5 separate regions of the Homo sapiens genome follow, and all the other regions are linked to region 5. Evidence: fine-mapped expression QTL. A gene starts in region 5. Each other region holds a variant in brackets. All regions are shown on one strand. Distances are from middle to middle.

What was found.
Region 1: its variant is fine-mapped to the expression of TTYH2 in whole blood (INTERVAL, PIP above 0.99).
Region 2: its variant is fine-mapped to the expression of TTYH2 in whole blood (Lepik 2017, PIP 0.95).
Region 3: its variant is fine-mapped to the expression of TTYH2 in whole blood (TOPMed, PIP 0.97).
Region 4: its variant is fine-mapped to the expression of TTYH2 in whole blood (INTERVAL, PIP above 0.99).

Annotation. Positions count from the first base shown.
Region 1 is chr17:74,108,891-74,114,986 of GRCh38, reverse strand. It overlaps LINC02074 (long intergenic non-protein coding RNA 2074), which reads left to right and starts at 2,088. Exons shown (of 5, transcript NR_184085.1): 1 at 2,088-2,341. The variant C/T (reference allele first, on the strand shown) is at 2,552.
Region 2 is chr17:74,879,439-74,884,438 of GRCh38, reverse strand. FADS6 (fatty acid desaturase 6) reads left to right here. Exons shown (of 6, transcript NM_178128.6): 3 at 1,729-1,909; 4 at 3,184-3,371; 5 at 4,856-5,000. Among named protein-coding and RNA genes, the nearest start is that of FDXR, 8.9 kb to the right of the region's middle. RefSeq lists enhancers at 1,464-1,994, 4,401-4,900, 4,901-5,000. The variant G/A (reference allele first, on the strand shown) is at 3,001.
Region 3 is chr17:74,240,853-74,246,948 of GRCh38, reverse strand. TTYH2 (tweety family member 2) reads right to left here. Exons shown (of 14, transcript NM_032646.6): 5 at 3,480-3,575; 6 at 2,900-2,972. Among named protein-coding and RNA genes, the nearest start is that of TTYH2, 30 kb to the right of the region's middle. RefSeq lists an enhancer at 1,173-2,067. The variant C/T (reference allele first, on the strand shown) is at 2,752.
Region 4 is chr17:73,932,924-73,939,019 of GRCh38, reverse strand. LOC107985081 (a long non-coding RNA gene) reads right to left here. Exons shown (of 3, transcript XR_001752999.1): 3 at 5,374-5,502. The region is part of intron 5 of LOC105371888 (a long non-coding RNA gene); the gene reads left to right. Among named protein-coding and RNA genes, the nearest start is that of LINC00469, 110 kb to the right of the region's middle. The variant C/T (reference allele first, on the strand shown) is at 2,751.
Region 5 is chr17:74,210,975-74,217,070 of GRCh38, reverse strand. TTYH2 (tweety family member 2) reads right to left here and starts at 3,500. Exons shown (of 14, transcript NM_032646.6): 1 at 3,355-3,500. The coding sequence starts at 3,483. It overlaps MGC16275 (a long non-coding RNA gene), which reads left to right and starts at 3,750. Exons shown (of 2, transcript NR_026914.1): 1 at 3,750-4,547; 2 at 5,389-6,096. RefSeq lists an enhancer at 1,156-1,205 and a silencer at 3,464-3,623.

The DNA.
Region 1 (6,096 bases), 100 kb after region 5:
GCTGGCAGCAAGACCACACCCTGATGGGCAGGCCAGGCAAAGCTTGAGGCTGGAGAACCCAAGGTTGGGAGCTTGACTGAAATTGGGGGTGTCTTTGATCACCTGTTGAACTGCTACACCATCGGAAGTGGCTTATCCACTGGGGGATTCCCTCCTTGCCTACTCAGCGCCTTGCAGGTGACAGGTGCTGAAATCAGTGCAAACAGAAATGAGAGGATCCCCAAATCAAAACCAGGAAATATTCCTGCCACTCAGCAGCTCTCCTTCCCGCTCCCCGGAGACAGGTGGCAGAACTCCCTATTATTGTCTTTGGGGGCAAATTGAGCCTGGGGCAGAGGAGGGAGAGAGAAAGACAGCTCAACTTGGGGTGGCAGGTCACAGATTATGTCCTGATTGTAAATGTCTGACCCCTGGCCCACCAGCTCTCCGTGTAACCCTCTTCCCCAAACAACCATCTCCTGATTTTCCTGTATCCCCGTCCCGTCTCCACCTCCCGCCTGCCCCTGCCCCCACCCCCTCCCCAGTTCAGATCTGCCTGGAGGCCTGGATGGCGACCATATGTTTAAGATGTTCCACTGCTGCTGTTGAGAGCCAGAAGGGCTGCCTGGGAGAAGGCACTCAGTCAAAGCTGTGTTTATATACACAAGGGCCGGCGTCTTTTTATTATGCATAATTATACGCTTCTTAATGTACAGGCATTTCGAGCCATTTTTCCTTCCTTGGTGAAGTCGCAGCAGAGGCGGGTGTGAGTCCGGGTGCTTGGGGGCCGGGAGATGGCTGCTCTTGTCTCCTTAACTCGGGGGTGCTGAGCCCTGAGCATGGCGGGTCCCTCGACCGATCAGCGTGCGAGGTCGCTCTGACCGAGAGAACGAATTCTTCCAAGGGGATCGGGGAGCCGGGACGCGGTGGTACATCGTGGAAATGTTGTAGATCATGAGGTGAAGCCCTCTCTCTCCCTCTTTGTCTTTGAGCCAAAGCCTCAGATACGCACTCCTGCCCTCATCCTGAAAGAAAATGTTAGATCCTTCCTACAAAGCATTGTTTTACATCTATACCCAGCGATTCTCCTCTTCTTTCTAAATTTCACAAACTTAGACTCTGAAAACCTGACATTGAGAGGTGACAGCATGCTGGCAGCCCTCACAGCCCTCGCTCGCTCTTGGTGCCTCCTCGGCCTCGGCGCCCACTGTGGCCGCGCTTGAGGAGCCCTTCAGCCCGCTGCTGCACTGTGGGAGCCCCTTCCTGGGATGGTGGAGGCTGGAGCCGGCTCCCTCAGGCTGCGGGGAGGTGTGGAGCAAGAGGCACGGGGGCTAACCGGGGCTGCGCACAGCGCTTGCTGGTAGAGTTCCCCGGGCGTGGGTTTGGCGGGTCCCGCACTCGGAGCGGCCGGCCGACAGTGAGGGGCTTAGCACCCGGGCCAGCAGCTGCGGAGGGTGCGTCGGGTCCTCCAGCAGTGCTGGCCCACCGGCGCTGCGCTCGATTTCTCGCAGGGCCTTAACTGCCTCCCCGCGGGGCAGGGCTCGGTACCTGCAGCCTGCCATGCCTGAGCCTCGCCCCTGCCCTCGCCCCCGCCCCCGCCCCCGCCGTGGGCTACTGCGCGGTCCGAGCCTCCCTGACAAGCGCCGCGCCCTGCTCCGCTGCGCCCAGTCCCATCTACCGCCCAAGGGCTGAGGAGTGCGGGCGAACGGCGCCGGGCGGGCAGGCGGCTCCACTGGGTGAAGCCAACTGGGCTCCTGAATCTGGTGGGGACTTGGAGAATCTTTATGTCTAGCTCAGGGATTGTGAATGCACCAATCGGCACTCTGTATCTAGCTCAAGGTTTGTAAATGCACCAATCAGCACTCTGTGTCTAGCTCAGGGTTTGTAAATACACCAATCGACACTGTGTATCTAGCTAATCTAGTGGGGATGTGGAGAACTTTTGTGTCTAGCTCAGGGATTGTAAACGCACCAATCAGCACCCTGTCAAAACGGACCAATCAGCTCTCTGTAAAACAGACCAATGGGCTCTCTGTAAAATGGACCAATCAGCAGGATGTGGGTGGGGCCAGATAAGAGAATAAAAGCAGGCTGCCGGAGCTAGCGGTAGCAACCCGTTTGGTTATCTTTCTGTGCTGTGGAAGGTTTGTTCTTTCACTCTGCACTATTTTGCAATAAATATTGCTATTGCTCACTTTGGGTTTATATTGCCTTTATGAGCTGTAACACTCACCATGAAGGTCTGCAGCTTTACTCTTGAAGCTTAGCGAGACCACTAACCCACCAGAAGGAAGAAACTCCGGACACGCCGCCTTTAAGAACTGTAATACTCAGTGCGAGGGTTCACGGCTTCATTCTTGAGGTTAGTAAGACCAAGAATCCACAAATTCCAGACACAACATGGTAATATATGGGGTCACTATCCTTATAGTGAGGGTTAAGCTTTAAATCATCACAATGAAAGCTTTTTGTTTCTCTAGCGTAGCAGCAAGGGAGAATAAGGCCTCTGGAGTCCAGGACTTGGGTTCAAATCCAAGCTCCACCGTAGCTGTGTGACCTGGGTTTATCATTT[C/T]GCCTTTTTGAATTTCGGTTTTCATTGAAATAATGGGAATAACATTAGTTCCTATATCATGGAAAGTACCTAGCACGGTCCTTGGTGCCTTGTAAATGCTTGGAAAATTATCCTTTCTCCTGTGGTGATGGTTCTAATAGACTGAGTTTTATGAGAGCAAGAGTGGGTGTCTCCCATCCACTGCTTTCTTTTTGATACCCTGAACTCTGCTGATGGCAGCAAACATTTGCTGAATCGTTGTTGAACAAGGAATGAATGAACACCGGGTTTGGAATCAGGGTCTTTTTTTGAGACAAGAGTCTCACTCTGTCTCCCAGGCTGGAGTGTGGGGGCTCCATCTCGGCTCACTGCAAGCTCCACCTCGGAGTCACGCCGTTCTCCTGCCTCAGCCTCCCAAGTAGCTGGGGCTACAGGCGCCCACCACCATGCCTGGCTGATTTTTTTGTATTTTTAGTAGAGACCGGGTTTCACCATGTTAGCTAGGATGGTCTCAATTTCCTGACCTCGTGATCTGCCTGCCTTGGCCTCCCAGAGTGCTGGAATTACAGGTGTGAGCCACCGCACCCGGCCAGGGTCTGTGTTTCATTTACCGACTGTGGGGCCAGGCCGTACAAGACCTCTGAGCTCCACAGATGCAAAGTGAAGAAGTTATGGATTGGCCCCATAGGCATGTGACGATGAGATTAACTGAGAGGCGCTGAGATAAAGCACGTGAAGTGTTTAGCTTGGTACTCGGTGTCAGGTCATGTCCAATTTTATTAGGAGCTTATATTCCATTCTGTAGCAGCTTGCTATTTTTATTTTTTTTTACTTTTTTTTTGAGACAGTCTTGCTCTGTCGCCCAGGCTGGAGTTCAGTGGCGCCATGTTGGCTCACTGCAAGCTCCGCTTGTCGGGTTCGCGCCATTCTTCTGCCTCCGAGTAGCCGCTTGGCTAATTTTTCTATTTTTGTTTAGTAGAGATGGGGTTTCACTGTGTTAGCCAGTATGGTCTCGAGAGATCTCCTGACCTCGTGATCCACCCGCCTCAGCCTCCCAAAGTGCTGAGATTACAGCGTGAGCCACTGTGCCCGGCCGCAGCTTGCTATTTGAAAGCATTTTTATTTCCATCACCCCATGTGATCTTCAAAACAACCTGTGGGCTGGGCAGTCTTCATCCCACAAATAAGAGGGTTTCAAGCCGGCCAGTGGAATCCCAGCGCTTTGGGAGGCGAAGCAGGGGGATCGCTTGAACCCAGGTGTTTGAGATCAGCCTGGGCAACATAACAAGATCCTTTAACTATAAAATTAAAAAAACCAGTTTCAGAAGGGTGAAATGACTTGCCAGCCACAGTGTCCAAGCCCCATGGCACTACCCGCCCCCTACCTATCCCGCCTTCCTGTTTGTCACTTTTGTTCCAATGCAACTTATTTGGTCCTTTGAGAGTGTCCCAGACTTTTAAATGTAGGAGATGCTGGAGCTCTGTGGTGTACATAAATCTTTCTTTGAAGCCTGCTTCCACCAGGAAGGCCCCCTAGGATGAAAAGACTTAACAGTCCAAAATGTTATCAGCCCACTTTGGAGAGCCCTTTTCTGGGCCCCTACCCTAGTGGGGAAGCACACACAGACTGCCAGGCTGTCATTCATACGGAGTTCACCCTGGGAGGAGCAGACAGATTACTGTGTGTGGGGCAGGGCACTTCCCACACACTTGCGTGGGGTTTCGAGCGGGGACGGTGGCCAGGGGCCCTGTGTATACACATTTTTTTTGTTTGAGACAGGGTCTTGCTCTGTCTCCCAGGCTGGAATGCGGTGGCGTGATCACGGCTCACTGCACCCTTGATCTCAACAAGCAATCCTTTCATCTCAGCCCCTCAAGTAGCTGGGACCACAGGCACGTGCCACCAGGCGTGGCTCATTTTTTTTTTTATTTTTGTAGAGACAGGGATATCCCTATGTTGTCCAGGCTGATTTTTGAAATGTGCTCAAGCGATTCTCCCACCTTGGCCTCCCAAAGTGTTGGGATTACAGGCATGAGCCGCCGTGCCCGGCCAACGCATATGCTCTGTGCTGACAGATTTCTTCTGAGCTAACAGATGTTGTCCTTTGACCCATATTGACCCTGTTGGAACACCCTAAATATTATTTAGCTGTCTCTCACCAAAACATTACAAGTTAGGCAGTTAGAGCTGTTTTTCAGATTTACCTGGCTGTTATGTCTTTTTTTTTTTTTCTTTTTTTGAGATGGAGTCTTGCTCTGTCACCCAGGCTGGAGTGCAGTGGCGTGATCTTGGCTCACAGCAACTTCTGCCTCCCGGGTTCAAGTGATTCTCCTGCCTCAGCCTCCGGAGCAGCTGGGATTACAGACACCCACCACCACGCCCAGCTAATTTTTGTATTTTTAGTAGAGGCAGGGTTTCACCGTGTTGGCCAGGCTGGTCTCGAACTCCTGACCTCAGGTGATCTACCTGCCTCGGCCTCCCAAAGTGCTGGGATTACAGGTGTGAGCCATCACACCTGGCCCATCCTGAATTTTCATCTGCTAAACGTAGCAACCCTAAGGACTGGTGACTTCCCAGCGTTGGGGCAGCTGCAGCTCTTCCCAGCTCCACTCTGAAGAGCTGGGGACCAGCCTGCCTTCCGGTCTCACCAGGAGCAAGGGAGATGCCAAGCTCCTTGGATGCTTCTCTGAGGAGACTGCGAATCCACAATAAAGGAAGCGTCCTTGGTAATGGGGAGATTTACCATCTGAAGGGCACCCCTCCCACTCGTAGGGGTGATTAGTTCCTAAGCACTTTTCTTGCAAGTGCTCTGTTTGTTCAGGGACACAGGAGGAGGCCCCCATCAATTCTTTCTCGTTCCCACCGCCCCCTGTCCCCCAGAGATTGAGAGTCAGGAGGTGATCTTCCCTCTCGCTTCCATTACTTTAGCACCTGAGTTACTGAGCCATTATCCCTTTAAGAGTTCTTTATTCGACCTCAGGCAACAAAATCCAAGGAGCTGCAGAAGCGCTTCCCTCTGCTCCGGGGCAGTACCTGCCCACTGGACTCGCCATTCATTTAGCTCTTTTATGGGCTGCCTCTGTGGCTCATGGCTAAACAACCTTGGGTGAGACCTTAAACTCCCCGAGATTTATTTTCCTAATCTGTAAAATAAGGTGGTTGAAATAGGTGCTCTCTAAGGTCCCTCATTTTCTGTGATTTCTTGCAGCCAATCTGGAGACAAAGCCCCCCATCCCAACATAATAGAGTTAAAAGGCCATGGCCCAGCCCAAGGGGCCATCAACTTTCTCCAGCTCACCTCCCCAAACCTTCACCCACCTCATCATGCAAAGCCAGCAACTCAGGAGGTGGGAAATTGACAAAGTTAATAGAAGACAGGAAAGGACAGAGTTGGGTTGAGATTCCCTCATTCAATGAGCAACGTGCATGAGGAATTGATTTCCCCCACCTCCTGTTTACTATGGTTTTTTTCCCCCTCTGGTGCAGGGAAGAAAGGCTTTGCATCAAGATGAGTCCTTCCACAGTGAGACTGCAACTTACCCAACATGTTTATTATTTCGGGAGC
Region 2 (5,000 bases), 670 kb before region 5:
GAATTTGAATTTCAGACAACCAATATTTTTGTATAAGTATATCCCAAATATTCCACGTATTTTTTGTTTATCTGAAATTCAGAATTAAGAGGGCATCCTGTATTTTCATTTGCTACACCTGTCAGTCTTGCTCAGGGAGCGTACAAGTCTCCAGGTGCAAGTCCTCAGGGAACTCTTCGGGCTGGCTCTGGGGCAGGATCTGTGTGAATGCAGCCATGTTTTAGACACCTTTGGGATGAGAGAGGGACCCTGGTGAGGGCCACAGCAAGAATAGTCCTCGAGAGCACCTTATCCTGATGGGAGTGGGTCCCGTACAGTCGGCAATGAGCCCATCAAATGGGGCTGATGGCATTCTCTTCCTTTTCCCAGGGACAAGGCCCTGGGAACCCCACAGGCCTAGCATGGTGCTGGGCACCACTGGGGGTCCGACAATGCTTATGTGAACAAACAACTGCATGAAAGAACAAATGGGGCTGGGCGCAGTGGCTCACACCTGTGTTCCTAGCACTTTGGGAGGCCGAGGTGGGTGGATCACATGAAGCCAGGAGTTCGAGACTAGCCTGGCCAACATGGTGAAACCCTGTCTCTACTAAAAATACAAAAATTAGCCAGGCATGGTGGTGGGCATCTGTAATCCCAGCTACTCGGGAGGCTGGGGCAGGAGAACCCAGGAGGCGGAGGTTGCAATGAACCAAGAACCCATGAGGCAGAGGTTCACCACTGCACTCAAGCCTGGGCAACAGAGCGAGACTCCATCTCAAAACAGAATAAAAATAAAATAAATAATCTTTTTCAGCAGGACCATCCATTTTCCAACTAACTCAGCAGCATGTGGTCATCCGCCACCGCCCTCAGGAAGTGTGCGAGTGAAGGGCGCTGAGCCTGGTGCAGTGAGCCCTCTGCGGGGGTGTTCCGCTGTCCTTTCCTGGCTTGCAGTGACTGGTATTGGGAAACTTTTCACGTCGTTCCAGAAACAGGCAGCATCTTCAATAAAATTAGCCACATCTTCTGTCCTAGATAAAATATCGGAAGAGGCTTACATCTGCATACCATTTGCATGTATCTGCTTAAGAAACACCTTAGCGTGGCTTTTGCATTCCAGACTGACTACTCTCCTAGGAGTCAGAGCGCACGTGCTGCTGCTCAGAGCGGCTTCCGAGAATCCCACTGGGGATCCATACTGCAGAAGAGTCACCTCTAGGGAGAAGCTCTTGGCCCCCACCAGGGCACCGCCCCCACCTTGTGGACTGGTCAGGGGATGGTGTCCCTGCTCTCTCAGACCACTCCTGTAGCCCCTCCTGGCTGCTGCTCCGGGCTGAGAGTGCTCAGTGTTATTAACGAGCAGATGCTTCTAAGAGAAACACACACAAAATCATTGCATTGGATGCCGGGGTCATCACCTGCAGTGCCTCCAATCACGACAGACTCTGAGACTCATTGCCTGGGCAGTCACTGGCAGATTGGCACTCCAGGGGTCCAGCCTCCCACCCCCAAATGCTTTGCAGAGCCTCGTCAAACGGACACGATTGTATTGACTGGCTGCCACTCCGTGGTCATAGATACCTGAGAGTTGATGGTCAAAGCGGATTAGCTGGGGCTGTAAGGCAGGACGGCCCTGGACATGCAGGGTTTGAGGAGGTGGGGGTGTTCTCCGGGCTCTCAAAGGTCCTGCATTGCTCAACTGTGCCTGACAGGGACCCCAGTGTCATTTCTGGTTCCCTCCTCTAGGTGTGCACAGCCTTCACTGCAGAGCACGCCACGCATGGGCACGTCAAGATGCACCATGCCTACACCAACGTGGTGGGCCTGGGGGACTCCAGCACGTGGAGGCTGCCTTGCCTCAACCGCTATGTCTACATGTTCCTTGCTCCTTTCCTCCTCCCCATCGCCACTCCACTGGTGGCTGTCGGTGAGTGCCATGAGAGCCCGGTCCGCAGTGTCCTGCATGGACCTAGTTCCCCTGCTCTCCTCCCCTGCGTGGCTTCATGGAGGCTGCTTATAGAGGAAGGCCCGATAGATACGTGCTGAGACAGCATGGCAAGGTAGAAAGAGCCTCAGACCTGGAGCTGAGTCTGGCTCTGCCGCTTACTAGCTGGGGACTATGGGCAGATAACTTAACTTGTCTGAGCCTCGGGTCCTGTACCTCCTCCTCAAGTATGGTGTGAAAGAAAATGAGGTCCTAAGTATAAAAATGTTTTGCAGGGTCTGCGTGTGGTGGCTGACACCTGTAATCCTAGCACTTTGGGAGGCTGAGGCAGGTGGATTGCTTGAGCTTAGGAGTTTGAGACCACCCTGGGCAACATGGTGAAACCCCATCTCCACTAAAATACAAAAAATTAGCTGGGCGTGGTGGTGGGCGCCTGTAGTCCCAGCTACCTGGCAGGCTGAGGCAGGAGAATCACTTGAACCCAGGAGGCGGAGGTTGCAGTGAGCCGAGATCTCACCATTGCACTCCAGCTTGGGCTACAGAGGAGCCTCTGTCTCAAAAAAAAAAAAAATGCTTTGCAGATGCCTTGCACAAATAATACTTCATGTTATCAGCTTTGATATCAGGAGAGCTATGTCATATGGTGGAGGGAGGCAGGGGTGATGGGGCAGCTAGACCTGGGTTCAAATCCCAGGGCTTGACCTTGGTCAGATTGCTTAATGTTTCTGTTTCTTTCTTTGTTTCTTTTTCTTTTCTTTTCTTTCTTTTTTTTTTTTTTTCAGAGTCTTGCTCTGTTGCCCAGGCTGGAGAGTGCAGTGGCACAATCTCAACTTACTGTAGGTGGCACACAACTGTAGTCCCAACTACTCAGGGGGCTGAAGTGGAAGGATCACCCGAGCTTGGGAGGCCAGGCTCCTCCTGAGTAGCTGGGACCACAGGTGTGCGCCACGACGCCCAGCAAATTTTGTGTATTTTTGATAGAGATGGGGTTTCACCATGTTTCCCAGGCTGGTCTCGAACTCCTAGGCTCAAGCGATCTGCTTGCCGTGGCCTCCCAAAGTGCTGGGTTTATA[G/A]GCTTGAGCCATCGAGCCTGGCCTCTGTTTCTTCATCCACACAATGGGGTGCCCTGCTTTTCAGGGCTGTTGTGGGTATGAATTGAACACGCCTGGCCTCCGCCACTGCTTTAGCACGCTTGAGCCAGCAGGGAGCCCCTCCTGATGGATCTGAGCCTTGCCTGTCCCCTCCCTCTATGGCAGAGCGGCTGAGGAAGGTGGAGCTCGGGACAGCCCTGCGGACGCTGGCCCTGATTTCTCTGGGCCTTTATTCTCACTACTGGCTGCTCCTGAACGTGTCAGGCTTCAAGAACCCCAGCTCAGCCCTGGGCTGCATGTTCCTCACCAGATCCCTGTTGGCCCACCCCTACCTCCACGTCAACATCTTCCAGGTGAGGCCACCCCAACCTGGGGCGCTGGGCAGCTAAGGGGAGCATTCTCCAGGGGCCCTGATCACAGGCTGGACTCTAGGTTGAGGAGAGAGGGGCCACCTGAAGGATGAGGCATCCTCCCTCTCGCTCTCATCACACTGTGCCCTCGCCTCGTCCTGGAGAGACCCTGCCTGCCCTCTCAGCAGTCAAGATCCTACTCATCATTCATGGTCAAGTTTGACAGGTAGTGTCAAGTGCTTCCTCTGCCAGGCACTATGCTAGGTCTAGGAAATCAGGGGTGAACAGGAGCTTCGGGTTGGTGCAGGACAGGACACAATTATGGGATTAAGTAATTAACAGCAGTTGTGGTAAGTGGTCCCCTCCCGACCACCCCCTGCTCTGAGGATCATTCGAGTTTTGGTTTCAGGGAAGAAGCAGGCTTCTCAGCTGGGTGCGGTGGTTCACTCCTGTAATCCCAACACTTTGGGAGACTGAGGTGGGTGGATCACCTGAGGTCAGGAGCCTGGCCAACATGGTAAAACCCTGTCTCTATTAAAAACACAAAAATTAGCTGGGCATAGTGGCGAGCACCAGTAATCCCAGCTACCTGGGAGGCTGAAGCGGGAGAATCGCTTGAACCCGGGAGGCAGAGGTTGCAGTGAGCCGAGATTGCGCCACTGAACTCCAGCCTGGGGGACACAGTGAGACTCCAGCTAAAAAAAAAGAAATAATAATAATAATAATGAAGTGAGCTTCTCCTCAACATAGTCAGCATGCCTTCCTCCATGCGCGGATGCCAAGCAGTAGGAGATAAAGGCCCCTAGTGCCTGCCCCGAGAAAGATGGAGGAACTGGAGACGGAATTCCTCACGGGAGGCCAGGGCTCAGCATTCAGCTCCAGCGTCATTTCCAGAGGGACGTCTCCCTGCTCCCTGCCCAGGGAAGGCCTCAGAGTAGAGCTTCCTGTACTTCCTTGTCCAGCACTTACCACAACTGCTGTTAACTACTTAATTACTTAATCCCATAATTGAGTTCTGTCCTGAAACCACCGAAGCTCCTGGTCATGTCTGAGTTCCTGACCTCTGAGTTCCTGAGCACCTGGCAGAGGAAGCACTTGACACTGCCTATTAAACTTGACCTTGAATGATGAGTAGGATCTTGACTGGTGAACAGAGCAGGAAGGGTCTCTCCAGAATGAGGCAAGGGCACGGTGTGATGAGACTGAGTGGTAGGCAGTTGAGAGCATTAGGGAACCATGGGACCTGAGAGGTGTGCAGGCTAAGCCCCTCACTGTTCAGATGGGGAGGGAGGCCCAGAGATGGATGAGAGTCAGTGCAGAAAACAGACAGGGTCATCATCGGAGCTGGGCCAGGAGCCCCTCTACCAGGTCCCCCCACATGGGAGGTGGGTGACACAAGAACCCTCTGGGTAGCATGAGGTCCCAGGACACCTGGAGTGGGGTGGGGAGGTCCAGGCTGCCCGGCGTGACCCACGTGTCTGTCACAGCACATCGGACTGCCCATGTTCTCCCGGGACAACAAGCCCCGTCGGATTCACATGATGAGCCTGGGGGTGCTTAACCTGGCCCGGCTGCCCGTGCTGGACTGGGCGTTCGGCCACTCGATCATCAGCTGCCATGTGGAACACCATC
Region 3 (6,096 bases), 30 kb before region 5:
AGCCTCCCAAAGTGCTGGGATTACAGGTGTGAGCCACCACACCTGGCAGATCTGATGGTTTTAAAAACAGGAGTTTCCCTGCATACGTCCTCTCTCTTTGCCTGCTGCCATCCATGTAAGACGTGACTTGCTCCTCCTTGCCTTCCACCATGATTGTGGGGCTTCCTCAGCCATGTGGAACTGTGAGTCCAATCAAACCTCTTTCTTTTGTAAATTGCCCAGTCTTGGGTATGTCTTTATCAGCAGTGTGAAAATGGACTAATACACGTGTGCATTACTCATGCCATGGTGATAGGGATGGCAGGAGAGGGGACAGGAAGGAGGTCACTGAGCATAGTTGGGGCAGGTGGGAGAGGCTGCCCAGTAACCAGCCCAGGTGATGGCTGAGCCTGCAGGCAGCTCCTGAGAATGGAGGTGTGGGTCTGAAGGGACCCCCGTGACCCTAGCATGATGACGATGAATGCACAGGAAGCCAGTGGTGGCCACTGTTTATTGGACATTTTCTGTGTGCCTCCCAGGATGAACCCACTCATCTTTCCCTAGCAACAGCCCTTTGAGGTAAGTCCTGTTATTCTCTGTGTTCACCTAGGAGGAAGCTGAGGCACAGAAAACCTCAGGAACTTTCCTGGGTTTCCACTGCTGGGAAGGGGTGAAGGGAGGATGTGGGCCCAGACAGGGTGGCTGCAGAGGCCACACTCCCACCCTCTGACTCAGGGGCAGGCCTGGCTGCCCCTTAGCTGGAGGAATCCCCTGAAGTTCTCTGTCCCCAGGCTCGGTGGCCAAAGCACTTGTGACAGCCATTGCCTCCTCCCTCACAGCTGAACCCATTTCCTTCCCCTTCCTTCTTCCAGGGCTTCCCAGCCTCTCTGCCTGCTCTAGCCCCTCACCCCAGACACCTCCTGACTCGCAGTGCTGACCACGAGGGGTGGCCCCAGGGCCTGGAAGCTTGGAGCTCCGCTGCTCCCTCCTCTCCCTGCCTCACCCAGAGCAGATCTCCAGGGCAGTGCTCTGTCCTCATGGAGTCCTTTCTAGGGACAGGGAGGGGTAGGGGTCGGGGGTGGGGAAGGGAGGCCTTGTCAATCCTCTGGCCCCATGGCTGTCAAAACAGGCCTCAGAGAGCAGGGTGGCATTGGGAGGCCACACAAAAGCTCTCCACAACAACCCCGGGACAGCCGGCCGCCCTCCCCGCCCTCCTGGCTCCTCCTCACCCGGCTTCCTATTAAAATGCAGCAGCATCTCCAGCCCGTCAAAAGCCCATTCAGCTCCACCGCCTGCTCCCCATCTCGCACTCAGGGGCCTGACTAGAGGAATTAGGGAAATGGCCTTTCTCCCCAGCTCCCCGCATTCCAGGGCGCCCAGCTGGGAGATTAAATGGCCTCTGGTTTTCGTGAACACTGAAGCCTGGTGAGAGGGAGGAGCCCCCACTGGGAGGGGCGGCCACCACAGGGCAGCTCACAGCGGCAAGCTGGAAGCCACCGCTGCCTCCAGAAGGCAGAGGCTGCCCAGAAAGCGGGATGGGGCCCTGGAGGAGTTCGCCGTGTGCTCCCTGCAGCTTCCCTGTGCGTGGCCCTGGCCCCAGAGGAGAGGCTGGAGGCCAGGCAGCTGCCTGCATCACCCTGGCCAGCAGTGGCACTGTTTACAGCCGTCCCAGCTCCTGCATGCTTTCAAACATGACTTGGGCCTTTTCTCGACCATTCCTTGGTCCGTGGTCACTGCACTGGGGTGGCAGGAGGCAAAGACAGAAAATGCCCCCTCTTCTCCCTTCTGCACAAGCCTCTGCCTAAGGTGCTAAGTCAGGCAGTGCCAGAGTCCCTGAGGGCATTGTGTCCACGCCCAGAGCTAGTGGCCAGCCCCCAAGTCACTGGACGAGGTGTGAGTGTGGTTAGGGAGCTTCTTGTACAAGCCACCCCCATCTTATCCTATCAAGCCTCAGGTCACTATGGCAGAACAGATGCATGTCCCAGGGTTAGTCTGTGGACTTTGAATCAGTGAGGGGTTCCTTGAATTCCCCTGGTAAACTGTGTTCTCTTCTATCACGTGCATGTGCATGAACACACACACACAAACACACACACACACACACACACACACACTGCACCTCCACTGTATCAAAGCCTGGGGTTGCAGTGATCTGCCTATGAGTCTTGCTTCCAAAGGCTGGAACTTTGTCAACAGCAAACATCACGTCCTCTTGGCTTCCGCAACCCCAGGCAACTTGTACCATCGAGTGCCACCCAGCAAACAATGTCAGCTGAGTGAATGAACAGCCTCATGCACACAGCTTAGCGCCAGTGTTAGGTCCTTTAAAGATCATGTGGACCCGCATAGGAAGCCCCCAACTTTTTTTTTTTAAGCCATTTTGAGACATCACATCCAGAAACATACAGCATGTGTGCTTCAGACCGCGGGAGTCCTGGGACATTGGGATGGAAGGCAAGTCAGACACCACATTCTACAGTCCCAGGGCCTGGGGAGCTGGCAAAGCAGCAGCTTCTGATGCGGGAGGGATTCCCCAGTCTGAGGCTTGGACCCCTACCCATTCTCAGGAGACCCGGTCAGTTCTTCACACCCAGAGAGAAGCGCCCTGGTCACCCAGGCACGCCTAAGCCTAAGCACGTGTAAGCCTAAGCATGCCTGGGCAGCCGGGGGCTTCTCTCTGGGTATGAAGCATGAGTGTCTTATCCTGGCTCTGACCCTGGGCAGTCCCCTTCCTTTCTCTGGGCCTGTTTCCCCATCTGTAACGAGAGGGGC[C/T]GGTTCAGATGACGCAAGTCCCTTTGGTTCTGAGATTCTGGGATTCTAGGTTAGGAGCTGGGACCGGAAGCTGGCCCTGCTTGGAGACACACCAGAGTGTCCTGGCAGACCAACCACCACCCACCACCCACTCCCTCCCCCAACTCACCACTGCCGCAGAGCCATCAGCGGCCAGGGATGCCCAACTGAGGAGCAGGCTCAGTGCCCCACAGCACAGCATCCTAGGAGAGAGGCAGGCGACAACGTTGGCAGGCGGGGTCCCCTTCCTCTCAGCCATCACCCCACCCACCCTGCCCCCAGACCCTTGCAATGGATCCAAAGGCAGCCTCAGTCCCTGCCCTGACGTGGGCCCTGCTCACTACTAGGAAAGGACCATGGAGCCCAGGTCCTTGAGGCTAAAGAGACCCAGGCGTGAGAGCACAGGCTAAGGGGGCAGTGTTGGCTAAGACGGCCAGAGGCTTTCATGCACGGACCCATGTTTCTTAGCTGCTCAACAGAGTCAGGCCCAGAGAAGGAGGAAAGCCTAATGCTTGCTCGTTTGGTGACCAGATGGTGAGTTGGTGGCTGCTGTCTGTCTCCTCTGCTGAGTGCTGAGGACGGGGCAGAAGGTGGCCTCAGGCAGCCTGGCTATTTTCCCCACACTCTGGAGCTGGCCAGGCCCTCGTCTCTCTCTGATGATGGCATCCTGCCCAGCTCTTTGTCCCAGGTCCACGGGTAGGGATACTCACGAGGCCAGGAGACACTTGGAGCGCTTGGCCAGTCCCAGGCAGGCAATGAGGCAGATGACCAGGTCCAGGATAAAGAGCAGGAGGTAGGAGAGCCACCTGGGTAGAGGGGCAGGGATGGTCAGGAGCAGCAGGGTGGAACTTCTGACCTGCTGGCCACGTGAGAGGCCTGCACGGCAGCCCTGGGACACACTGGACCCTCTACTATGGACATGCTGCCCAGAGCCAGCAAGCACCCAGCATGCGTGGGCTGAAGCCTCGGGAGCTGCACCCCCACTGCTGCCTGGACAAAGCTGTCAATTCACACCCCCTGCCTTCACCTCTAGGCTGAGTGTCAAAACCAGCACTGTGCACTAGAACTTTCCCCAGTGGAGGAGCTGTTCTAAATCCCTGCTGTCCACTCTCTTCTTTGCCACTACCCACAGGTGGCTACCGAGAACTTGAAATATGGCTTGTGCAACTGAAGAAATACATTTTAAACTTTACTTAATTTTAATTAATTTCAATAGCCACACATGGCTGGGGCTACCACCCTGGACAGCACAGCTCTGAAGTGTCTTTCTGCGGCCTCCCAGCAGGCATCGCCTAGGACCCTGCTTCCCTTTGCTTCTAGAACTCTCAGACAGCATCAGACCAGCCAAGGCCTGATGTTTATAGCCACAGATCTAACACAGCCCCTAAGGTGCCTGCCTCTTTGACAAACACTCAGCCTGGCTCCCCAAGGCCTCCCATCTTGCCCCCTTGCTGGATGGGATCCATAACTTAAGACTTTTAGGTTCAGGACAGGCGCAGTGGCTCACGCCTGTAATCCCAGCACTTTGGGAGGCCAAGACGGGCAGATCACTTGAGGCCAGGAGTTCGAGACCAGCCTGGCCAACGTGGTGAAACCTCATCTCTACAAAATATACAAAAATTAGCCAGGTGTGGTGGCGGGCACCTGTAGTCCCAGCTACTCGGGAGGCTGATGCAGGAGAATCACTTGAAACCAGGAGGCAGAGGTTGCAGTGAGCTGAGATGGCGCCATTGCACTCCAGCCTGGGCCACAGAGTGAGACTCCATCTCAAAAACAACAACAACAAAAAACTTCAGGTTCATTTTTAAACAACATTTGTGCCAGGCACTGAGCTTGGCACCAGGGATACCCAGGTGAGTGGGCTCGTTTCTGACCATCAGAGGGCTCAGTGTGGAACCCGGGAGTCCAGGTCAGGGTACCTACAGCCCTGCAGACCTCCAGCCTCCTCCAAGCCCTTCATTCCTCTGGCCTTTTTGTCCCCAGGGCTGGACTGATGGGGAAAGGCAGTCACACCCCAGCTGGGAGACCTTGGTAAGCCACTTCACCCCTTGAGACCTTGGTTTCCATATCTGTAGAGGGAGCTGGAACCCCTCATCTCACAGGGCCAGAGGAAGGATTAAGTGCTTGCTAAATATAAAGGTTGATGGGGCAAGGCAGCCAAGGACTTCAAAGGCCCTGCCCTCCTGCTTCTCCAGAGAACAGGCTGAAGAATCAAAGTATCTTAAGCCAACGGACACTGAGAAGACCCCAAACAAAGTGCCCTCGTTCCTTTCCCTTCCACACAGGTCCCCAAGGTGGTCCTCACAAGGCCCAGTGGTCTCCCCTGGCAGCCATGCCCTTTACCCTGTGCTGGGCACCAGCGGGAGAGTGGACAGAGGAGGGGCGGGCACAGAGACAGGGGCTTCCCCGTCCCCAAAGAGGGAAGTATTTGGATCATTATTTCTCTTGCTGCAAGAGCCAAGTAAAGTCGCTGACCTCTCCTCTCCAGCAATGGTTTTCTGCTTCACTGACATCATAAAGGGGAAGACGGAGTTTGGAGCGTGGGCAGGGAGTGCCCTGGAGCTGGCAGAAAGTGGCAAAGAGGCTCCGAGGGAGAGAGGGGAGGGAGCAAGCTGGAGGCCTGGCAGCCAAGGGAGGTTCTTTCTGACTCCCCGAATTGAGGCTTACTGCCAAAAGAAGGGGACTAATCAAAGTCCTTGTCTCTGCACGAGCAGGGGGCAGCACACACTAGGTCTCTGGGGTTCCCCGGAATGGAGCCGGGGGCTTTGGGGAGTGGGCAGAGCCTGCTGCCACCAAGAAGCCAGTTTCCTTAGACTTAGCTCAGAGCTGGAAGGAACCTCGCAAACCATCTAGTGTTTGGATCACATTCTTATTTTTACACGCACACACACACACACACACACACACACACACACACGTATTATAAATACCGGGTCTGTCTATGTTGTCCAGGCTGGTCTCAAACTCCTGGACTCAAGAGATCCTCCTGCCTCAGCCTCCCAAAGTGCTGGGATCATAGGTGTGAGCTGGATCCCATTCTACAGATTAGTACAGATTAGAAAGCCAAGGCCCCTGGTGGGGAGAGCCTGGCCCAGAAATTCCACATTGTCTACATCAAGCTTCCTGCAAGGGACACAGCCAGCTACAGGGCACCTCTCGAAATACCCAGTTCATGTTTCAAACTTAAAGATTTCTTCTCACCACTCGCCTCCGCTCTGCAGAGCAGCAGGAAATCCAGTTAGGGGTGCTTCTAACCCACTCTCTGTGGCTGTGATTCAATGTATTTTCCCTGCCTCCACGCCTCATGTTGTCAGGGGTTCCTGGAAA
Region 4 (6,096 bases), 280 kb after region 5:
AAACACTTCTCTTTCACTCTGGTTTACACCAGAGTTTGTTTGTTGCGTGGCCCAACCCTCCCATTTCCTAACTTGCACAGGTACATTTCTGGCCCTCCAAAGTGGAAACCTGCTTGTTCTTCAATGAACAAAGGGGCTCTTGCTGAATGTGTGTGTGGCCCTGGAGTTGAAATCCATCTCCTTGACCTTGGAGGCTGGTTTTTCCCAACTCAGGGAAAATTGCTAAGAGTCCAGCAGCAGGCTCAGTGTCTTTTTGGAGTTTTCAGAGCTAGGATGCTCCTCTCTCTCAGGCTCTTTAAGAACCTTCCAGCATCCACCTCCAAGGGGGAGGTTTGGCATTTCCATATCCTTGGCTGGCAAATTGTAAATTTGGATATGAGCAGAAAATATAGTGACATCAAGGTTATGTGGTCTGCAGCTGACAAGATGGATAGCCCTCAGCTAGGCAGCATTTCCCAGCTTCTTCTTGGTTTGCACTCTCTGCACCTCTCTTTCTTTTAACCTTTTTTTTTTAAGGAAAACATTTTTAGAGACTTTAATAACTGTGGAAGGATGCTGTAAGGCGGGCAGGGAAATTGATCATTTTTATTCGGTTGTGCGTGATAAAATGTAAGTTTGAGCCATGAATCTTCTTACCTTGAGGGAAAAGAACGGTGTGCCTGGCTGTTAATATGACTCCCTTTTTGGAGATTTTAATGAAGGAATCCCGCTCCCCACCGCAGATTAATTCATAGCTGTGGACAGGGCGGGGCTGAGGCGGGAATACACTCTTTCCTCCAATCTAGCAACTGCTGGTTCCGTCTCTCTCCACATCTGCGTGTATTCGCTGTCTATTATTTTTAATCAATGTCTCACCAAACACATATAAAGCTCCCACTGTGTGCAAGACACCATGCCTAGCACCAAGGAGGGGAGATGCTGAGGAGTATCTCAGAGTCCTGTGTAAGTTGCCCAGAAGAGGGCTCCTCTCCAGGCCCTGCCTGTGAGCACCCCAGATACCTCCCCACTTGTCTTGGCCACAGCTATATCCCCCTACTGGAACATGGCAAGAGATGAGGCACACGGCTTGTGTTGGCCACAGGACTCCATTTTGGGTACCCTAAAAGGAAAGGCAGGGCTGCAGTCTCAGTCAGCTTGGGCTTCCATAACAGAATGCCATAGACGTTTATTTCTTACAGTTCTAGAAGCTGGAAGTCCAAGATCAAGGTGCCAGCTGATGTGGGTCCTGGTGAGGCCTCTCTTCCTGGCTTGCAGATGGCCACCTTCTTGCTGTGTCCTCCCGTGGCAAGGAGGGAGGGAGAGAGACTGACAGCGCATGCATGCTCTCTAGTCTTTTCCTTCCTCTTCTTATAAGGCCATTCATTCCATCATAGGGGCCTTACCCTGTGACCTCATCTAACCCTAATCACTTCCCAAAGTCCCCACATCTAAATACCATCCCACTGGAGTGTTAGGGCTTCAATATATGCATTTTGAGGGGACACACATATTCAGTCCGTAACAGACCTGTGTTGTGGAGCTCATTTCCTCTTTCTTCTTCTTAGGGGGTTGAGTATGGTGGAGTTGGAAAGTGTGATGTATGGTGTGGGGAGAGGACAGAAAGCGACCTCTGCTGCCAGGCGGAAAAATGCCCACCCAACTACTCCTGCCACATCAAGTCTGTGGCCAGAGTGTAGGAGGGTTCAGGCCACTGCTACCTCCCGCATCCTTGCCCTAGCATCCCTTCCTCAGGTCCTAATCCTAAACCTCCATCAGCTCCCTGCTTTCTGGATCCCTCCCGCAGCCAGGCCCCTCTCTTGCTGTGGCTCACCAGTCATCTGGACATTGCTGGCAATAAGCTTCCTTAAACATCCATGGTGCACACGCTGCTCTGCAAACAAAGACAGGGCATCCAATTATTCCAAAAACAACCTGTTTCTGTTTGCTTATCTGACTCGGACTGTTTGCCCCTGACATCGCTATTGATCAATTTGAACTTTTCCCCTTCAAGTCCAACATGATTCATAATTTGTGGTTGGGAAAAGCCACCTGGGCAGTGGGCCCCCTGGGACCAGGCCCTGTGCACCCATAATCTCATTTAATGCTCTATGTGGTTGGTATCATGATTTCTATCTGAAAGACAAAGAAAACAGGGGCTGGGGGAAGGTGAGCATTTATCCAAATCTCCCAGCTTATAGGTGATGGTTATCAGAATTTGAACCCAGGTCTGTCTGTTCCAAAGACTGGCCCCTCTCTAATACATTGAGATGCCTCCTGTGTAGGCACCCAGTTTTGATGGTCACCCCAATTCAGAATTGCAATCAGACAACAAACACCAGAGAATACAAAAGGCTGATTGTGACTCTGCGTAGGGAACAAGTGTACCAAGCTGTGCCGACAGTTTGATGGTGGGTCAGTGTGACATCTTGGAAAAAATAGCAGCTGATTATATTTTTCAAATCGACATGTGTTTTTAAAGACTTTTGAATCAGATGTGAGTCAGGAGCATTAGGGCAAAAGTGTAACACTTTTTTTTTTTTTTTTTTTTTGAGACGGAGTTTCGCTCTGTCGCCCAGGCTGGAGTGCAGTGGCGTGATCTCGACTCACTGCAAGCTCCACCTCCCGGGTTCACGCCATTCTCCTGCCTCAGCCTCCCGTGTAGCTGGGACTACAGGCGCACGCCACCATGCCCGGCTAATTTTTGTATTTTTTTTTTTTAGTAGAGACGGGGTTTCACCATGTTAGCCAGGATGGTCTCGATCTCCTGACCT[C/T]GTGATCCGCCCGTCTCGGCCTCCCAAAGTGCTGGGATTACAGGCGTGAGCCACCGCGCCCGGCCAGTGTCACACATTTATATTTGGTGAATGTGGGAAATTTCTCCCATGAAAACAAAGTGAGCAGTCACTCTTGAGGTCTGGGTGCATAAATTATAGTACATTTATACCATGCGATATTATGCCCTATTGAAAACAATTAGAGCAATATTGGAGGACAGAGAGAGAGTTCCCCAAGGTATTGTTGAGTGAGGAAAACAAGATGCAAGAAACTGAATATCATATATTTCTGCAAAACAAATAATGACAAAAGGCTGGCTATACATGTATAAGTGCACACATGTGTATAAGTGAATGCATGTGGGTGTGTATAAAAAGTTACATACATGTATGTACATACATGTCTACCACATGTAGTGTGTGTATGTATATATTTATACAGGATAATATGATCATGAAGAAAAATGTGGAAGGATCCCTACTAGGCTATTAGCATGAATTTCTAGTGGTTATGGGTGGAGGACAGAGGAGAGGTGTCAAGGAAAGTCAAACTAACAGGAAAAAAAACTAAGAGTCTGCACAAACACACACACACACATACACATGAATCATGTAATGACAACATTTATGCATTTAAATAAAGGTATAGGCATTCATGTAAATACATTCAAAGAAAAGTTGTAAGTTATTTTCCTACAGCAACAGAGCACTTACCCCAGAGATCTGCATGAAGGCATGACAGTGAACAGGCCTCTGCAGATCCAGACGGTACAGTCTAGAGGCTGGGGACAGCTACTAGGAAGCCACATCACTGGCTTCCCACTCCCTGCAATGGGAAGGGTTGGTTTATTCCTTGGCTTTACAGCCGGCACAAGGAAGAGGGGTACCTGTGTGATTTGGGGGTCTTCTCCAGCTGCTGCCTTAGAGTCCCCCACCTGGTTCAGGGGTAAGTGAAACAGTAGAAGGGGAAAATAAACTCTTTTCTACTTCTACTAACATTAGGGTAACCGTAACACTGATCATTTAAACAGGGACCACTTTGAGAGTGAAGAGCAGAACTATGAATAATTCAGGTGCAAACCACGACTGTCCCTAGCACACCTGGCTGTAGGGTCACCCTAGCTATAGCTCCTAAATGGGGGGTCTACATTCTAAATTTCACCATCTTCTCCATGCAAATGTGAGTATTAATTGATCCAGAACCCTGTAATTGTTGTAACTGGAGCCCAACAGGACTGAAATTACTCTTAATTATCATCCCATCCCAGGAGGGAGGGTCCTTTTCCCTCAAAGTTACAGAGACACGTGGTGAAACCAAGGGGGACGGGTGTGTGGCTTCCATGGGGCCCTGCTTAACCACAAATGTCAATGCTCTGGGCTGAGCAGGGCTGGGATTCCTGCACATGCTCTGTGTGGTTGGCCTGATCTATAAGAGACTAAATAATGACCAGGCTTGCTGCTAGAGCACTTTGTAGCTGATGTGTCTGGCATCACCAGCTTGGATTACTAAATGGGTACATGCTGATTAATCTACAAATTAGGTTGATGAACCCCCACCCTAGCTGTCTCAAGGATTTGTATATCTCCCCGGTGCCCTTCTTCCCAAGCATCCCTTTGTTAATTCAAGGGATCTACACAGAGACTGGTATTTGGACCAGGGCAGAGAGAAAGATAGAGGGGGAAAGATTATTTTTTCCCAAACTATTAATATCTACTAATCTGAAATGCCATAATTGAGGGCTAGAGGCAGCATTTTTCTTGGCTAGCAGGGGGAAAGCTATTTGAAATGGCCTTGAGAATATGACTAACATGAAGGAAGCAGACTGCAGAGATAAAGATGAAAGAAAGACCCTGATGATACTGTTTGAGCCACTTGCACCCTCTTCCTTGTGCTGGATCTTCAGGAGCACCTGAAGTCTGCTCCCCAAAGTTGGCAGAAAGAATAATGGCCCCCAAAGACATCCACATCCTCACCTCTAGAATCTGTGAATATGCTACCTTACATGACAAAAGGGGTACTGCATATATGATTAAGAATTTTGAGATGGGGAGATTACCCCAGATTATATGGGTTGGCTCAGTGTTATCACAAGGGGAAGCAGAACAGTTAGAGTCAGGGAGGGAGATGTGGCCATGGAAATAAAGGTCAAAGTTATGCCATTGCTGGAAGTGGGCTGTGAGCCAAGGAATTTCAGGCATTCTCAGAACCCAAAAGGCAAGGAATGAATTCTTCCCTACATCTTTTAGAAGGAATGCAGCCTTGCCACCATCTTGGTTTTAGCCACATAAACCCATTTCTGGATTTCTGGCCTCCAGAGCTGCAAAATAACACTTTATGTTGTTTTAATCCACTCACTTTGTGGTAATTTGTTACAACAGCAATTAGAAAACCAATACTCTCAGCTTTCTGGTGGCATGAAGCAAATTTTCTTGAGTTAGACTTGATTTTCCATCATTTGTAACCCCAAGAATCCTGTACTAGTAACCAGCTCCAGGAGGACTAACATCCCTTTCCAGAACAGCCCAACTACGATACTCTCCCAACTTGTCCTTTACCTCAGAAGTCCTATAACTAGGGCTTGAGAGGAACATGGGGACAGATTCGTCAACTTTCTCCTGCAAATGAAAAATCCAGTCAGGCTCAGATAGATCCAATGACTTGCCTGAGCAGTTGAAGGGGTTTCTACCCAGCATGGGTTCTAGATCTGGAGTCCATGGACCGGCTGCTGTGGCCCAGTGGACCTGTGAAGTCCTAGAAAAGAGTACAGGTTTGAACAAGTATGTGTGTCGATACCTTTCTTTCTGCAGCCCCTTGGGTGGTCCAGAACCACATCTCCCTGGGGCTGCTTTTGCAGCTGAGGAACCTGGAGGTCTAGCCCATCCTGACCTTGGCTCTGCCCTGTGCTCCACACCCAGCTAACCCATCTCTTTCCATGACACGCCCTAGATGGCCTCCCCCACGGAGCACATTTCTGAGTGGAGCTGCCTGGAGCAACCACTGAGATCAATCTCTTGGGATGCCAAAACGCAGACACCATCCCGCCTCCTAGATCTGATTGTTTTGACAGCTTCACCAAATTACAAAGCAAAGGCCCCATTTGGTGATGAGAAAAGCAATATTGTGGCAGGGGCGGCTCATTTCTTTGAAAATCAGCAGTAAGTGAATTTGCATCCACTTAGTAGTAAATACATCTGGCTGGCCCCCTCTACAGCAACTGCGAGGGATTTACATGCACTTGGGTTTGTTTTATTATTTTATGATGGAGAGAGGGGGGAGAGGGAAGAGGGAGGGGAGAGCAAAAGAGAGGAGATTGAGAGGGATTTCTTGGGGAGGAAAAATTGAGGA
Region 5 (6,096 bases):
GCCTCGTTCATTTGCTCAGAGAGACATTGCTGGATTCAGTGCCAGGTGCCCATTCCCTTCTCCCCAACACTGCCCAGTGGACACCGGCTGGCTGCAGTCTTCTCCTTCCTAAGCAGTGATTGTAGCAGTTTCCAGTGTGCCAGGCACTGGCCACAGGCTTCATAATCCATGAACTCATTAGTTCTTTTATCATCTCTTTAGAGTAGGAATCGTCTCCAAATCCAATCCCCCTCATCTGTCAAAGGTGAGAAGACTTGGGCTGCAGGTCTAGGCTGATTTCCTTCCAGACATACAGCCACATCTGGCAGCCCAGAGCTGGGTGCCCGCCAGGGCCAAGGTGCCCTCGTCCACAGCCCTGCCTTGGTGCTCACCTCTCATGCCTCTACTCACTGGAGGGTAGCCTCCCCACAAGGCTGGTGACACAGGCCAAGTGGCCTTTGCGAGGACTTGGGCTCAAGTTCACTGGGGGGAGAGGGGTGAGGATCAACTATCAGGAGGACTGGGGGCTTTCACGGCTCCCAAACACCCCAGAAAGTGAGTGAGAGCCCCTACTTCCTCAGGAAGGTTCTGGAACACTGAACTTGCTCAGGAAATCCCAGCTCACCAGGTGACCTGCTCTTCACCATCTCTGCACTTCCAAGAACCCCCTTGCCTTTGAGATCCCCCGCACCACCCACATCCTAAGGCCAGCACCTGCCTGTTTCCATCCTTGCTTAGTCTCTGATGCACACGCACCCACCCCCCACACCCCACACAGCCAGCACTGTGCATTTGAACATGTGGGGCATGAGCTGAAGCCCTTTCTGCAGGCGTTTTGTTCAGTCTCCCCCAATCAGAGTCTGTGGAAGAGATCTCCTTCCTCTCCATTCCCCAGCAGGGTACTGTCCTGAGACACACTCCTGAACCTCTCAGCCACTCCATTGAATGATCTGTGTCACTGGCTCCTGTTATGTGCTATGGGACTCTCTGTACTAGGCATGATATGTGGAATATCTCATCTAATTCTTGCAGATGAAGGGAACAAGGCTCAGAGAGGTTAAGACACCTACCCGTGGTCACACATGGAAAGAACTGGGAATCCACCCCAGCCAACTGGAGGGCAGAGCCCCACCTCAAACTGCTTGGTGTCTGCCATAGCACTGCGCCCAGAGCCCAGCCGCAGAAAATCCCCAGCAATTTCTCCTGAAGACCTGCTGCCTTGGTTACCACGGTCACCCCACGCCTGGCATAGCACTTGCTCCAGTCAAGCTTGCTGAAGACTGGGATGACCGACGGTCCACCTGACTCTGTTAGTGACTGGTGCTCAGGAGGAAAGAAGACATCCAGGAGAGACCTGTGGTCACAACAGGGGAACTTACCAAAAACAGGAGCCACCTTAAATAACACCCAGAGCCAGACTTCCGGTCCTGGCCCACCACGCTCATCTCCTACTCAGCGATCTGAGTGGTGGTGAGGGGGTGAGCGGGACCAGGAGCCAGTGGGCAGGGCTGGTGTCAGCTGCCCAGGAGCAGTGGCCGATGGGAAGGGACACCCTCTGGAACCATTTGATGCCCAGCACAAAGTGAGCCGGGGCCAGAATCCTGGGAGGAGGGGCAGAGGCTGGAGGTAGGTTCATCTGGCTCAACTGCCACCTGCCCATGGGACTGAGGGGGCTGTGGGCAGGCCCAGGATCCACCAGCCACAGCTGTTGGGCTGATAGGAACTGTCTCTGGGGCCATCAGGGTGAGGGAGTCCCCTTACCATCCCTACCCCCACCTAGGGGTCTTCTTGACCCAATGAAAAGTTTAGATTTCCTCCAGTGGAGAGGAGAAAACTATGGCTGGAGACCCCGGGTGTGGGATGTGGGGCACAGGGTTTGGGATGGGGACACACACACACACACACACACACACACACACACGGCTGTTTCTGAAATCATATCCGCCTCTTTTCATGCATTCTCTGGGAGAGGAAGATTCCCTGGAGCTATCCCCAGGCAGCCACATTCTCAGGGAACACAGACTCCCACAGGCTGGGCTCTGGGGGAGGGGGGTGGGTCCACCGACTGCCGTCTTGCTCCTGAGTGCCCACTGAACCCCAGGAAGGGGTCCTGATGCTCCCCTCCCTCTGGTAGGGCAGGCACCATCTGCCTGGGCCTGATGGCAGCCGGGTCGTCAGGGGTTATTATTAGACTCCCTGTCACTGGCGCTTGGGCACCTCACACTGGATCAGGATTCCCTCCAAGAGGCCCTGCTTTGCCCTGATCTGTCCCATATCTGGAGAACTTGACACAGGGAGAGGCCGCCGGGGGCCAAAGTCCTGAGATGGGCGCCTGGCTCTGAATAAATGGACCTCATCCTGGTCCACTGGCCCCAGAATCTTTGACCCAACACAAGGAACTGATACAGGTGGGCTCCCGGGGCCAGAGCAGGCGTGACCAGACCTGAGACGGGCTGGGAGATTCTGCAGCTTTGTTTGTCTGGGCAGGGAGGTCTGGGGAGCCCTGGCCCTGTTTGTGGGGTGCAGAATCCTGCCAAGGGTCAGCAGAGTAGGGAAAGGGCGGGGAAGCCGGGAGTGACTGCCCTAGGCCAGAAATTCAGGGCTTAAAGGTGTGAGGTAGAGAGAGGGGCGTGGGGGAACAGGAATGGGCCAGTCTAGGACCAGGGGACACAGAGAAGCTGACTGTCAATGCAAGGGGGTCCTCAGGACAACAGTGTGAGATGGGCTGACGGAGGCCACCTTCCTTCCCTGGAACAAGCGCAAGCAGCTGTGGGTTCTCTGCGCTAGAGGGGAAGTGACCCACACCGCTTCCCCAAGCCCTGCAGCCTTCCAGCTGAGACTCCCACCCTGCAGGCCGGGGCTGGGGAGGAGGGGTGCTGCGAAGACCGACTCGGGAGACTCTACTCAGTTTCTGCCAAACTTTCCTAGGCCACTCAGCCCCGGAAAGAGAGCGCCCCATCTTGGAATCTCAGACGGTCGAAAACTTCGGGGCACCCCTCAGCATCCCCGCACCTCGCGCGCCAGGATTACCCCGAGACGAATGCCCCTGTCCTTACCCCTCCCCCGCGCCGCCCTGCCCGCTCAGCGTTCAGCCCCTCACCCCGCAGGCGGTCTTGCGCCCTTCCTCCCCTTCCCCACGCTCGCTTCACTCTGATCTCTTCAGTTTTCCCGGCCCCCAGGTTCCCAGACAGGAGGGGACGCGGGCCACGGGCCTGGGAGGGTGGGGGAAAAGGGGAGAGGGGAGACGGGAAAGGGCTGCGCGGGGAGAGAAGGGGTCTGAGAGGCACGTGGGAAAGTGCAGGCTCTCGAGGGGAGAGGGGGTAGTGCGGGGACTTGGGGCGCGCGTGGCTGCGGTCTGGGGCGGCGTAAACTTACCTCCTGGTAACTCTCGTCGCCGGGGCTGAAGGTGCTGTTCACGGGCTGCAGGCGCAGGCCGACGTGCGGGACGCTGTGCAGCCACACGACCCACCAGGGAGCGATGTAGTCCACGCGCGCCGCCTGCATGGCTCGGCCCGAGTGCTACCCACAAGCTGAACGACAGCTGCGCTCACCTCCCGGCCGGGGCCCCGTGCCCGCCCCGCCCCCGGCCCCGCCTCTCCCTGGGCCCGCGCCCGCCCCGCCCCGCCGCGATCCCAGTCCCAGTTCTGGGCGCGCAGCCCGCTGCAGTCAACAGCCCCTTTCTGGGCGGGGATCTGTCCTGGCCGGATGGGAGGAGGGAAGTGAAAAAAGCTCCCAGAAGTCTCTAAATCAGTTTCAGTCTCGAGGTCCCCGGGCTGCTTCTTATTTATGATCAGATCAAGGGTATAAGGTGTCAGTGGGGGCAGCCAGCAGTCATAGGCCAGAGAGGGGCGACTGCCCGTCCCAAGGGCTTGTCACAGGGTAAGTAACCGACAGACTGGGAAAGGAAGGAGGCAATCTTCAGCCACTCGGTCACTCATTCTAAATTCACTCTCATTTTTTGGGCATCTATTGTGCAAGCCCTGTGGACTTAAAAAGAGAAATAAGACGCCGTCCCTGCCCTCGGGAGCTCCCGGCGCATCTGCCCCAACAACTCGCTGAAGCCGCCTGCAGGACGCCTGAGTGAGGACAAGGTGTCTCACTCAGAAAATTTGCTTGATTCTTCCTGGCAAGTGGGACAGGGTGAGCTTCCCGGAGGAGGGGACCTTCGAGCTGTGTAGCGGGGAAGGTAGGAGAGCGATGAGAGCGCCCGGAAGGGACAAGCATTCGGGGAGACTGAAGCGCATTCAACAACATATTTATTGAGCACCTACTACGTCCAGGCACTGTTACATCGGTGATGTAACAAAAGCCGACAAAAACCCTCACCCCGAGCGCAGGCACCGCAGAGGGCGATGACGACCCGAGAAGATGCCGAACGCAGGCCAGGAGGGGGCTCTGGGGAAAAGCAAAGGCAGGGGAGGTTGCCCATCGGGGAGCCTCGCGTCCCTGGGCCCTCCGTACTCTGCACATATGCAGAGGCCCCCACCCGTCCTGTAACCGCAAACTGCTTGGCGTGACTTGGCCAGCGGAGGGAGGAGCCCAGGCTGCAGGACAAGCAGGAGTCAGGGGTAGGTGCGGTGGAGTGATGGGGTCGCGGCAGATTGGGCGTGGAAACCGCGCTGGGCAGCCAGCCTGAGGGGTGCGTATCCACCGCGGCAGGGACGCGGGTGAGAAAGGAGCCCCGGGAGGACGGGGCGGGGCTCCTAGGGTTCTGGCTGAAGGGACCGGGTGGATGCGGACCGACTGAAAACGCTCGCAAACACATATGGCTGCTGGGGAGTGGGGCCCCAGTCACCCGGTGCTCAAAGGCCCTGTGTCCATTAGAGGAAGTCCTGGCCTCGGGGCCTCTCCTCGTGGCCGTGATCCCACGGTTCTGGGGCCCTGCAGGAGCCCAAAGCTGAGGGGCCCGGAAGGCTGGAAACAGCCATTCTTCTCTCATTGGGGTGTCTTTCAACAAATTTTCTTGAGCACGTTCTCTGTTCTAGAGGATACAGTAATGGATAAAACACACGTTCCCGCCTGCATGGCGTCTACAGCCTAGTAGGCGAGGTGAGGTGGACTTGTATCCTGCAAACAGCGATTGCAGGCCTTGTGAAATGTCAGAGTCCCTGCTGTAGGGAGAGGGGATGGAAGGTGGGCGTCAGGGTTGTTTCCCAAAGGACAGTGACATGAGCTGAAGGATGATCGGGAGTCAAAGAGGGGGGTGCTGGGGGAGGCCTCTGTGCAGAAGGAACAGGACCCTGTGAGATCAGGGACTAAGGCCAGTGGAAGGGGAAGCAAGCAAGTTCCAGAACAGGACAGGGAGCCGGAGAACTGCAGGAGCCAGGCGATCAGCTTGGAGACTGCGGCAGGGGAGGGAACTTCTTTGGGTGAAAACCTCCTTTTAAAAGGTCTTGGTCTCTGACTCAGTCCCTGCAGTTGCTGGGGAAAGTGGACTCTTCTGGTAGCTGCTTTTACAGCCCCTGCCCTCAGAGGCCCCCCAGGTGGGAAGGGCCTGCCTCCTAGGCAGTGGGTGGTCACCGAGGACTGACTTTGAACCCGGGGCAAGGGAGCCCCAGAAGGCTGGAGGCCTGCACACGGCACTGGAAGAAACAAACTGCAAAGGCTGTCCCTCAGGGCTATCTCCACAGCCACCGGAATGCGGCCTGGAATATCCAAACCTGTCAGCCCACCTGCACCCAGCCAGACAGCGACCATTCTAGCTGCTTCCCCGGAGGCCTGCTGACCCAGAGAGGTGTCAAAAAGCTGAAGCACAACAGACAGACCTCCCACAGACTCAGCAGGGAGTTGGAGGACAGTCGGCACACCAGCAGCTGTAGCCCATCACCTCCCCCCTCCCCATTCACCTGGTATGCAGCACTTAAGGGCTTGCTGAAGCCCCAGCAAAGCAGAGGCCCACCTGAGAGCTTGGAAACACACCTATGCCCCAGACCACCGCAATCGCAATCTCCAGTCAGCCCTGGCCACCACAGTGAACTGCCTAAGTGCCCCAGATGACTGAGTCACAAGCCAGGGCTGGGAAGCACTGCATGAAAGGCGGCCTTCTCTAGACAAGGCTGGACACACCCCTGCAAGGCCTGTCTCCTAGGAGCTGGGATGAAACTCTGGACGATGTGC